2 separate regions of the Homo sapiens genome follow, and region 1 is linked to region 2. The links come from fine-mapping of genetic effects on gene expression. A gene starts in region 2. The other region holds a variant in brackets. All regions are shown on one strand. Distances are from middle to middle. Region 1 overlaps DYRK4 (dual specificity tyrosine phosphorylation regulated kinase 4). Region 2 holds the start of DYRK4 (dual specificity tyrosine phosphorylation regulated kinase 4).

The links.
Region 1: its variant is fine-mapped to the expression of DYRK4 in whole blood (TOPMed, PIP above 0.99).

The regions. Positions count from the first base shown.
Region 1 is chr12:4,602,333-4,607,716 of GRCh38, forward strand. DYRK4 (dual specificity tyrosine phosphorylation regulated kinase 4) reads left to right here. Exons shown (of 15, transcript NM_001394779.1): 11 at 2,582-2,754; 12 at 4,995-5,055. It also overlaps the pseudogene LOC103568124. Among named protein-coding and RNA genes, the nearest start is that of DYRK4, 43 kb to the left of the region's middle. RefSeq lists an enhancer at 2,489-2,828. The variant T/C (reference allele first, on the strand shown) is at 2,211.
Region 2 is chr12:4,560,057-4,565,440 of GRCh38, forward strand. It overlaps DYRK4 (dual specificity tyrosine phosphorylation regulated kinase 4), which reads left to right and starts at 2,152. Exons shown (of 15, transcript NM_001394779.1): 1 at 2,152-2,227. The coding sequence starts at 2,190. RefSeq lists a silencer at 1,987-2,281.

The DNA of each region.
Region 1 (5,384 bases), 42 kb after region 2:
GCTCTTCCTCTCTTTTCAGCTTTTCTCTCTTTTGTTCTCGTTTTGTAGTTCTTTCTGTCAAGGGGAAAGACAGTATGTTGAGGTCACTGATGAGATATGTGCAGACTGTCCTGATTAGATTTCCCATTCCCTTTACTTCGATCTGAGATGGCAGCAGAGCTTGGACAAGTCTTGCGGTTGAGTGGTGGGATATAAGCCAACTTATAAGTGGAGGGATATAAGCCAACGGCTCTCCTGTTGATGAGTGAGTGACAACATCAATCTTTGCTGCAGAATCTTCTTTCTTGATGCCACTGACACAGGAGTTGGAAGATCTGGGTAACACCTGCTGAGGGTCATTTTCTGTACTATTTGCATTATTAATGGGAGGCAAATACCCCTGACTCTTCAATGTCTTGTAAATTCAGAAGTTCAAATTTTCCATCTCTCTCTACCAGTATTGTCCTATCCTTGTTTATTTCACAGCTTCCATTAATAAGTGACAGGAGCATATTTTCTTGTCCCAAATCATTGGAAATACATCACTGTGACAGTTTCCCAAATATATTTCTTTCATTTTCAAAATAACTTTTGTAAGTATTAGTGTCTTTTAGTGGAGGAACTTCCAGATCAACTAATTTGTCCTTGAGCTTAAATTTTCACTCCCTTTTATCATTCACGGGTTCTTGATTCTATAGAAGCTTGTTAGCTTGTACAATTTTCTCCATAATGTATCACCTTACTTCCTCATCCTCTTCCTCCTCCAAGTCTTTCTGGCTTTCTAGTTTGGACTCCTGGAAAGAGTTTTCACTATCTGAATCTGATATGGGATCCAAAGGTTGAATACTCGGTACCGAAATGAAGTCATTTCTTCTTGGTGAGACCTCATCCTGCAAAGATTTGTCAGGATCAGAAAGCTGTTTGCTGTGTTCTATTACTGTTTCATTCTCTTTTAAGTCTTGGTTAATATTCTCTTCCTTCTCACAAGCCATCTCTATTATGCTGGCATCACTTTTTTCATTTTCATTAGTTAACCCCTCCAGGTCCTTTTCAGATTCATCTTTGTATTCTTCACTTTCTTTTGAATCAGTCTCTTTATTTTCATTCATTTTCCTCTCTCCCACCATTAATATTTCTACTCCACACCGTCCTTCCCTTCTCTCCCTCTGTTTCCCTCCTGTCTGTGTAAAATGCGGCGGCTGGGGTCACAGAGACGGCCAGGGGAGTTCTCCTCTCCTCCGCTTTCTAAGCTCTTCACATCGAGGCAAGGGAGACCCTGGCACCTGCCTCCGCAGCAGCCAGGACCACACTGCCATGGCAACAGCATGCCTCTGTGTCCTCCATCTGGGCCTCTCTGGCAGATCAATTTTTGAGGACATAAAACCTTTGTGTCTTTATGTATGAATCCTATAAGAAATTCCAGCTAAAAAGTAATGCTTCCCACAAAGAACTTGTATGTTTTCCCTTCTCAGATGTTGAAAGCTGTGTAACTTTTCAGTTTTCATTTATCTTGGCTGCCAAGATGCTCGGAACTGAATTCGTAATTATTTTATCCTTGGTTTCTAGCAGTCATTTCCCCCTTTGCATATTTTCTGACATCTTTTTTATCTTTATTTTAACTGTGAGGCAGTATCTAATATTGATGCTAGAATTAAACTGCCTACTCTCAAATCCCAGCTCTGTCACTTATAGCTGAGTAACCTTGACATTTTAACCTCTGTATGCCTCAGTTTTCTCTTCTTTAAATTGGAGGCAATAATACTACTTGCTTCACAGAATTAATGTAAGGGTTGAAAGGGCTTATCTATAAAAGTACTTGGAATCGTGCCTGGCACATACTAAACATAATGTAAATACCATTAAATCCATGTTCTAAAATACTCTGTGCATGTGTACTTTGCAAAGTACCACAAACACATTTGGGAAGCAGGCAGGATATAAACATTATTTTTATTAAATCTCTATTTTGTTTTAAATCACAGAATTATGTTCTGACAATAACCAATTTAAACAACAGAAAAGTGGTTACAGAATCCCTGCCCCTCCCCAGGTAACCAGAAACCCCAGTTATGCGGAAATAACTACCGTGTTCCATTTCTTCGACTTCAGTCTGTTCATCCTCACCTGTTGAGAATTTTCTTTCTATACAATAAGTGCACATGCTATATTGAATACAGACTTTGCATGCTCCCTTTCTAACTTGATATGCTCCCTTTCTAACTTGATAACTC[T/C]CTTGCCAAGTCACAAGACTCAGAAGCTGTCTACCCCAAATCAATCTGACAGTTTGAAAACTTAGTCTTATATTTGTCTTATGTTTTGTTTGTTTGTTATAAACTTGGCTCACTTAGATTCACTTTCCTACGACAGTGCCCACGTTGGAGTTCGTTATCAATAAAGCAGGGACAGTCACACCTCCTTTATAATCAGGTTGCTGGCGGATTTGATGCTGTGATGGTGTAATGGGAGTTCTAAGTGCTGGCCAGCTGCACTTCCCTTTCACTGCCAGCGGGGGCGCAGTCTAACTGAGAAGTTGTCCTGGGGGAGAGCGTTCTGGAGGGTAAGAAGTTTGTCCCACGAGGTTTCTCTTACTTTGCCTCCGCAGTATACACGTACATCCAAAGCCGGTTCTACCGATCCCCAGAAGTGATCCTGGGCCACCCCTACGACGTGGCCATTGACATGTGGAGCCTGGGCTGCATCACGGCGGAGTTGTACACGGGCTACCCCCTGTTCCCCGGGGAGAATGAGGTGGAGCAGCTGGCCTGCATCATGGAGGTACGCGGAGGGCTGGCGGTCGGCTCCCACGGAGACCGTGGGCTTGGCCCTCAGACACGGGGCTGCACCAGACTCGCCCAGGACCATGGCCTGCATACCTTGTTGTTGTTGTTGTTGTTGAGTATTCCCTAAAAGGAGTTTTGAAATTGTGTACTCCCTTGTACTTGTCAAGTCGACATCTAACGTTTTATCATAAATTTAAATAGTTGCAGAGGATGTCATTTCCATCATATTGTAAATAGTGACATTTTAAAATAAAATTACACCGCTCTTTCAAAAATATCCAAAAGAATGCAAAACCAGACGGACATGACACCCATTAAAATCTATCTGATAGTATGTGAACAGGTTCTTAAGAGTTGTGCCATGATTTTACTTTGTTCTTTTTTCCCTTTTGTTTCTACTCTTTTTTCTACTTCCTCTATGGAATTTTATTCTAATTTAATATACGTTTATGTTTAGAAACTTCTATCAATCATTATAGCTTTAAAAATTTCCTGATACCGTAAGCCTCATGTGTAAAAATTTCTTTCTGGTAAGTTACCATTAAAATATATCTGGTGTGCAAATTTTGATAATTATTGAAAATAAAATGTGAAATCTTATTGGGCATACAGCTCTTAGAAAAATGAATAGAGCTGGGTTTTTTTTTTTTTTTTTTTTTTTTTTCCAAATTAATGCCTATACCCATAGGTGAATAATGCTTCTTGCTAGAATGCCCGGGCTCGGGATCAATGTGATTCCAATTGCTTGGTGGTGTAGATGTGAACCCAGTGAGGAAGCCTGTTCTAATTAATGTCGTCTAATTCGGTGACTCCTTTTGAGTTCTGTGTAAGAATCAAATGGTGATCTGTCATCTAAAATTATGTTTACCAGCCTGTCAGCTGACAACCCGATTAAAATGTTGAAAACAAAGAATTGGAAATTATTTGACTTCAAAGTATGTGTATTGTTCAGGCATTAGTCATTCATTATGGGAAATGACAGTTTTCTGGGAAAACTATCTCCTAATAGCAAGGCTTGACCAAGACTCATGATATGATTATTAATTATATCTATTATGCTTTCACTTGAAAGCCATCTTGTTTTGGAAATAAATTAGACAAAATAGAAAAATAACTTTAAAAATTTTAAATTTTACATTTTAGGATTTTCCCAGTGAACAAAGATATTTTGTGTGCAAACACCAAGCTAGCTGGCTGGCTGGCTATCTATCTATCTATCTATCTATCTATCTATGTATCTGTATCTATCTATCTTTGCCAAATTTCTATTTTCCAGATTGTCTCAAAGTTACAGAGAAACACATATAGCCTTGAGAATGACTAAACATAGATAATTTCATTTCATGATCGAAACTAATAATAAAATATTAAAATAACTTAGGTAAAAATAGCTGTGGTGGAATGAACACTGGCCTGCGAGTCATTAAACCTGGGGTCTTAGTCCTGGCTCTGTCTTTTTGACTAGGCATTTCCCAGCTCTGGACTATAAAATGAGGGGAGCAGAGAAGATGGCTTCTAAGGTTGATAATGAATGATTTTATAAAGCATCCCCAGACCACTCCTGCTTCCAATACCAAAGAGAACGGGGCCTATGTTTCAAATTTCCTACAGCCCCAGAACTGACTCAGCTTCCTCTTGACCTCAGTGTCAAAGGGTCTGAGGAACAGAAGAGCAGGATAATGGATGGATTATGGGTGGGAACCGAGCAGCAAGGGCAGGTGACCCACACTGTAATTTCCTTATCTCTGTGTGCCCCTCTAAGTTGCAGTAGGAAAAGATGAACAAGTAGGTGCTACACTTTTCTTTTCAAGAAGGTATTTTGTCTTATAATTGTCTGATGCTCATCCGGTGATTTTCATCTTTTCTTCTCCCTTTCCAGTGCTCCATGGTGGGATATATCATTCTTTAATTCTGACATGGCAGCATGTGTACTAGTTTATTTGCTTTGACAATGACATCTGGCTGCTATCAAGGGTGGTGGCCCACCCCTAGTTGGTGCTGATGTTTGTGTAGAATAACATGGCCAGTGTTGATTCTTAGGATATGAAACCAGCCCTGGATTAGGAGTTAAAAGGCCCAGGCTCTGGGTTTGCTCTGCTACTGACCAGATGTTATTACTTAATGCTTTGAATCCTTATCTGTAGAAGGCAAAGCTTGGCCAAAGTACGCTCCACCCCTCAGCCTTTGAATCTGTGCTCCCACAAAGAATGAACCAATTGAATTATCCTTATTAAGGTGCTGGGTCTGCCGCCAGCCGGCTTCATTCAGACAGCCTCCAGGAGACAGACATTCTTTGGTAAGTCCTAGTGTGTCTCATGAGGTGTCACAGGCCTTGAAGACACCTGCCATACCTTAAGGCTCATTTCATTCTTTTCCCCTGGCCACATACCAAAGGGCTGTGATTAAGAGCGTCTTTCAGAGAAGTAAAAGATAATGAGCAGGGGAATCGGATAGCATGTTGGAGATGGGATGGGGGAGTCACAGTGGGAACAGGGTCTTGACAGTAAAAATGCTCAGGAGGAGGAGAATAGCCAGGTCCCTGCTCAGAAGAGCTATCAGCAAATATTGCAACCTCAAAATATTGTAACTGCATCCTCTCCCGGAAGTTCTCCCCACTCTCCCAAG
Region 2 (5,384 bases):
TACACTTCTTTTATCTAACGTATATTTTTATAGTGTCATATACCAGCCCCCTAACCTGCCCCACCTGTCCCCTTTTTAAAAACATATTTTCCAGTTACATAGCACTGAGGTACTCTATTTGGTGTAGATCAACAATAAACATAAGAGCCTACTGTATATTAGGTACTGATATAATTGATTAATCATCTGGCACCAGCTCAATAACCTGTTTTTGCCGTGTTCTTTATAGTTTATCAGGGGATTTGAAAATTACCTCAAAGTATGTTAAAACCAGCCTGGCTGAAAGCACTGATACCTTTATGTTGCCAAACCCAGTGTACAATTTTCTCACCTAATCTTATACACCCTATTCATTATACTCTGATGAAAACATTTGATTTCCTTGGCTCATGTGACACATTTCTTTGTCATTTCTTCCCATCTCCATGCCTACTCTTCATTATTTTGCAGCTTTCTAATCTGTTGTGTCACCTTTACCTACTTGTCTTACCAGTTTCATGTTCTATGCAAACTCCAGGGGTCACTTATGTGACAGTGACTGCCAAGTCAGGGTCTGTACCCTATACCATGCTCTTGACAACAGAACCTGTGGATGGTCCACTGACAATTTGATGTAGCAGATCAGTTGTTAAATTCAACGTCTCCTCCTACCCCTGACATCTCTCCTGTGTTTTCTGTTGGTAAATGAATGGCACCACCATCACTGCAGGTGCCAAAGGTGTCATCCTGGGATTGAGTCTTCTCTCGACTTTCACATCCAGTCACCAAGTCTTACTCCATTTCCTAAATTTCTCAAAACTACTCTTCCATGTGCTCTCCCTTACTCTGAAACATCATCACTCACTATTTCTAACAGGCATCCTTGCCTTGATTCTTAACCTACTCGGGCCTACTTCCATTGTTATTGCCACAGAGGGTTTTATAAAATAAAGTCAGCATGAACACCCCTCTGCAGTCTGCACATACACACCTTACCCTGGTCGAGTTCATAGCCTACTTGGTGTCTGACTCCCCCTTTCCTGCTGCTTCAACCTTGTCTCTGCCCACGTGCAACTTTGATCCCTGCCCCACTAAACTGGGTGCTGGCACAATGGTACCAAGCTTTTCTATGGCTCTGGCCTTCAGAATAGGACTTGCCTCCTTTACGTAGACAACTACTGCCTGTCCTTGAAGACTCAGATTCAACTCAGCTCTTTCAGAAAGCTTCATTTGAATGTCTTTTCTGCCTGGACCAGACTGTGCACCTCCAGGTCAACCTACTGCCACTCAATTACAAATTTCCCTTTTCATGCTTTCTACAATCTGGTGCAGAGTAAGCACTCAAAAAGTGTTCAGCTGATATATGGATTTTACCCAGAACTTTTGCTATGTACTTACTTTTTTTCTTTTTCTTTTTCTTTTTTTCTTTTTTTTTTTTTTTTTTGAGATGCAGTCTCGTTCTGTCGCCAGGCTGGAGTGCAGTGGCGCGATCTCGGCTCACTGCAACCTCCGCCTCCCGGGTTCCAGCGATTCTCCTGCCTCAGCCTCCCAAGTAGCTGGGACTACAGGCACGCACCACCACGCCCCGCTTATTTTTGTATTTTTAGTAGAGACGGGGTTTCACCATGTTGGCCAGGATGGTCTTGATCTCTTGGCCTCGTGATCCACCCGCCTTGGCCTCTCAAAGTGCTGGGATTACAGAAAAAAATGTCTAAATAGAGACAGGGGCGGGGGGGTCTCACTACTTTGAGCAGTTTGGTCTCGAACTCCAGACCTCAAGTGGTCTGCCTAGGCCTCCCAAAGTGCTGGGATTGCAGGTGTAAAACCACCGCGCCCGGCCAGAACTTCTGTGATGTAATTCTGATAACCACATGCTTCGCTTGAAGAAGGGGAGAGAGTAGGGATAATTTCATGTGTCCGGTCTGGGCAACCAACTTTAAGTTCTTTATGCTGGGATTTTGTTCAATTCTTGCCCTATACTTTAAAGAACTGGGGCAAGAGAATGCGAGTAGGAGGACGAGGAGTATGTTCTTCAGGCTGCTACTCTGCAAGGTGGTTTGGGACCACAGCCTGAGAAAGCCCTTCCAGCTCTGGAGTCATAAAAAGGGCGGGAGCCGTTTCTATAGCGACGGGAGGAGGGCGTGGCCGTCCCTTGCCCTCTGCCGGGCTCTCACAGCCTCCCGCAGCGGCGGGCGGTCAGCGCCGGCCTCATGCAGCTCCTCCCGCCGCCTATCCGCACCGGAACAAAGTAAGGGCCGCGGAGGCTCGTACTTCACGAGCAGTCAGGCGCGAGTACGAGGCAGGCGACGAAGCTTCTGGTCGACGGGGTCGTGGGGGGAGAATGAAAAGCGTGCAGAATGCAAGAGCTGACCGGGGAATGTGGGTCAGAGAGAGGCGGGCTGTGGTGCGCGGACAAGAAAATACAGTTGTAGTTTTTGCAGCAGCTGCATCCCCGGAATCCGACGTCAGTATACTTCCATGTTAAGATGCTGTCGCATCGGCGACTCCAGCTGAGTGCAGGACAGGGAGCGAGGGGTTCTGAGGAACTCAGCAGACCTATCCTGGAACTGTGCTTCCAGCCCTCACTGGGACGCCAGACTTTCTTCCTCCCTTTCTTTCTCTTCTTTACTGCATGTCCTCTTGGTAGTCGTAAGTGGGTCCACGACCACACGCCTCGCGTGGATGAGGCTCTGGCAGGCATTACTCATGTTCCCACCCAGCCCATATGCCCGGGCACCTCTGTGCTCAACCAGGGCCCAGCCCCTGACACAAAAGCGCGCGAAGGTGTGTGTAGATCACACACCCAGAGCTGCCACTCAGGAAATTCCCAATATTAGCAAATCTTTCCTTAAAAAAGAGATGAACAATGCACAATTTGAGGGTTTTTAAAGGCTATTCTGTGACATTTGCTGCATTTGAAATGTCCAGCAGCCCCTCAAAGCTTAGGAAAACCGTGACCCCTCTGACATGTCTTAAGCAACGGACAGCATCACCAATATTAATTCAAGCTTCACTGTCCAGGCTTAAGTGGAGACTCGGCAAAAGCAGGAGGCCATTTAGTGGAAAAGTTCAAACCGTGGAAACAACAAATGAAAATGTCCTTTGTCTTGCTTGAGCGATTTGATCACCTACATGTGGTCGGTATGTAAAACCTAGGAGTTCGAAGAAATTCTTCAAACATGCACTCTACCTTATTGTTTCTGTTACTTAAATCTGTTGTTTCTCTTGTTTGTTTTGGTCCTTATGGAGAAAGCAGAGGTAAATCGGAAGGGACTCTCTAGCAATATGCCAGCCACTCTTCCCTGACTTTGCCCTCTCCAACTCCACATATTGTTGCCTGCAACTTGGCTAGAATGCATAGTCCTCAAGCGTGTGGAGGACCCAGTGCTGGGATTTAGTGGTTTTAGCTGACTCTAAGCCCATCGTGAGTGTGTTGTGATGGCTCCCCAAAGAGCAAATGCTGGTGGAGGCTGCATTCATAGAAATGCAATGACCACATCAAAGAATATGGTCGTGCTGCCTGACTTAGCAATGAGTAGAACATAATCCAGACTCTAGAAACTGTAGCTACTTTGAGATCACAAAGAACTGGAAAATAGGAACAACCACAAGGCAGGCTCTCTCTGTCAGGCCTGGGTGTGCCATCACATGAAGAGAGGTTTGAAAAAACTTCACAGAATGCCTGGAGATGAGGAGATGCAAGGGAGAGAAAGCTTTTTTCTACTCAACTTTTGAACATTCAAGAACTCTTGAGTAGAAAAGAGATAGATTTGTTCCTTGGTACTCTGCAGAGGATAGCAAGGATCAGTGGAGGAAATTTTGCTCAATATAGTTTATTCTTCCAAGAAATATCAAGTACCAACCCTATGTAAATTAACAGTTGAGTGTGAAATGGGTTGCCTAGAAAAACAGTGCACTCTGTCATAGAAATATTCCAGCATAGACAGAGTGATTGCCAGGAATACCATAGAAAGAGGATTCTTCCCCAGGGTGGGAAAATGGATGACATGGTCTCCAAAACCTCTTCTAGCTCTTTAGAGTCTGGGAGTCAGTGAACCCTCAAGAGTCTCAGGGATATATGCAGAGGGTCCAAGGAATTCTCTGGCAGAAATGAGTGTGACTTAAAATACATTTAGATAGAAGAAATAAGACCTAGTGTTTAATAAATCAGTAGAATGACAATAGTAAACAATAATCTATTGTATATTTCAAAATAGCTAGTAGAGAATAATTTGAAGCCCTGACTTGATTATATATTATATAAATATAAATATACATCTATTATATATCAATTAAAAAATGAATGTAACTTAAGTTCATTAAAAACATTATCACCTGTTCACAGAATGCAAACGGAATCCCTGCAAACCCTGCACTGCCATACTTTCTGCCCCAAAGACAGCCCCCAGGGCATAAAGATCAAGCTACTGGCAATTGCAGTAGAAATCCTAAAATCATAACAGGTAAATCTCAAAAGACTTGTTTCCTTTCTGGATATTGAAGTACTCTATACACAGATGATGTGTATATATTAATATAAAATACTATGCAGTGCAGTAAGGCTGGCACCTCTGTGGATCTGCCTTAACCTTGAGTCTTCGAACTCCTTGAAAACAAGGCTTCTGTTTTATTTATCTTTGAATCCTCCATGCTTAGCCCAGTAGCTGGCACACAGTTGATGCTCTGGAATTTTTTGATGAATTAATCTATTTTAGATTTCTCTTCCCTCAGCAAATTTGTACCAAGTTTTCAACAGACAAGTCACTGTCCTTACCCCAAAAGGAATTTTTTAAAAATGCAGGATCACCATCTATGTCTCCAAAAGACTAACAATCAATATGAGACAAAAAATATATGCACCTAAGATAATTAAATGACACTAAAGCTCTTGACCAAGTGAAAAAATGGTTTCTTAGGCAAACACACGATTGAACGCTCGAGGAAAGAGAGGAAGGGGAAGGAGAACTCCGATCTGCATGTAAGATGAAATGAGAATGGCCAAACTTTTGGTTTCAGTTCTCAAAGGAACATTCACTCTAGCTCTGAGCTGAGTTTATTAGTTATCTTCAATCCTTCATGTAACAAGATACAAACGAAATATAAAAAGCAGTTTAATTCTTTTCCACATAGCTCACCACATATTTTGAGGATAAAAAGGTAGCATTTGCAAAGCTTTGAGCAAGGGTTAAGTTGTACTGTTGGAAGCCAGAGTTCATGCATAAAAAAAGAAAGGCACAAAATAGTCTTTAATAATCACAGAATTATCCAAGGGATGGCAAAGTTGGAATAAGTCACAAGAGATTTTTTTTTCAGTCTGTCAGTATTTTTGTAGAATTAAAGAAATTTAGACCCCAAAGGGACTTTAGAAGTCACCTGCTCCAGTCTCCAGTCTCATTATTTTGCAG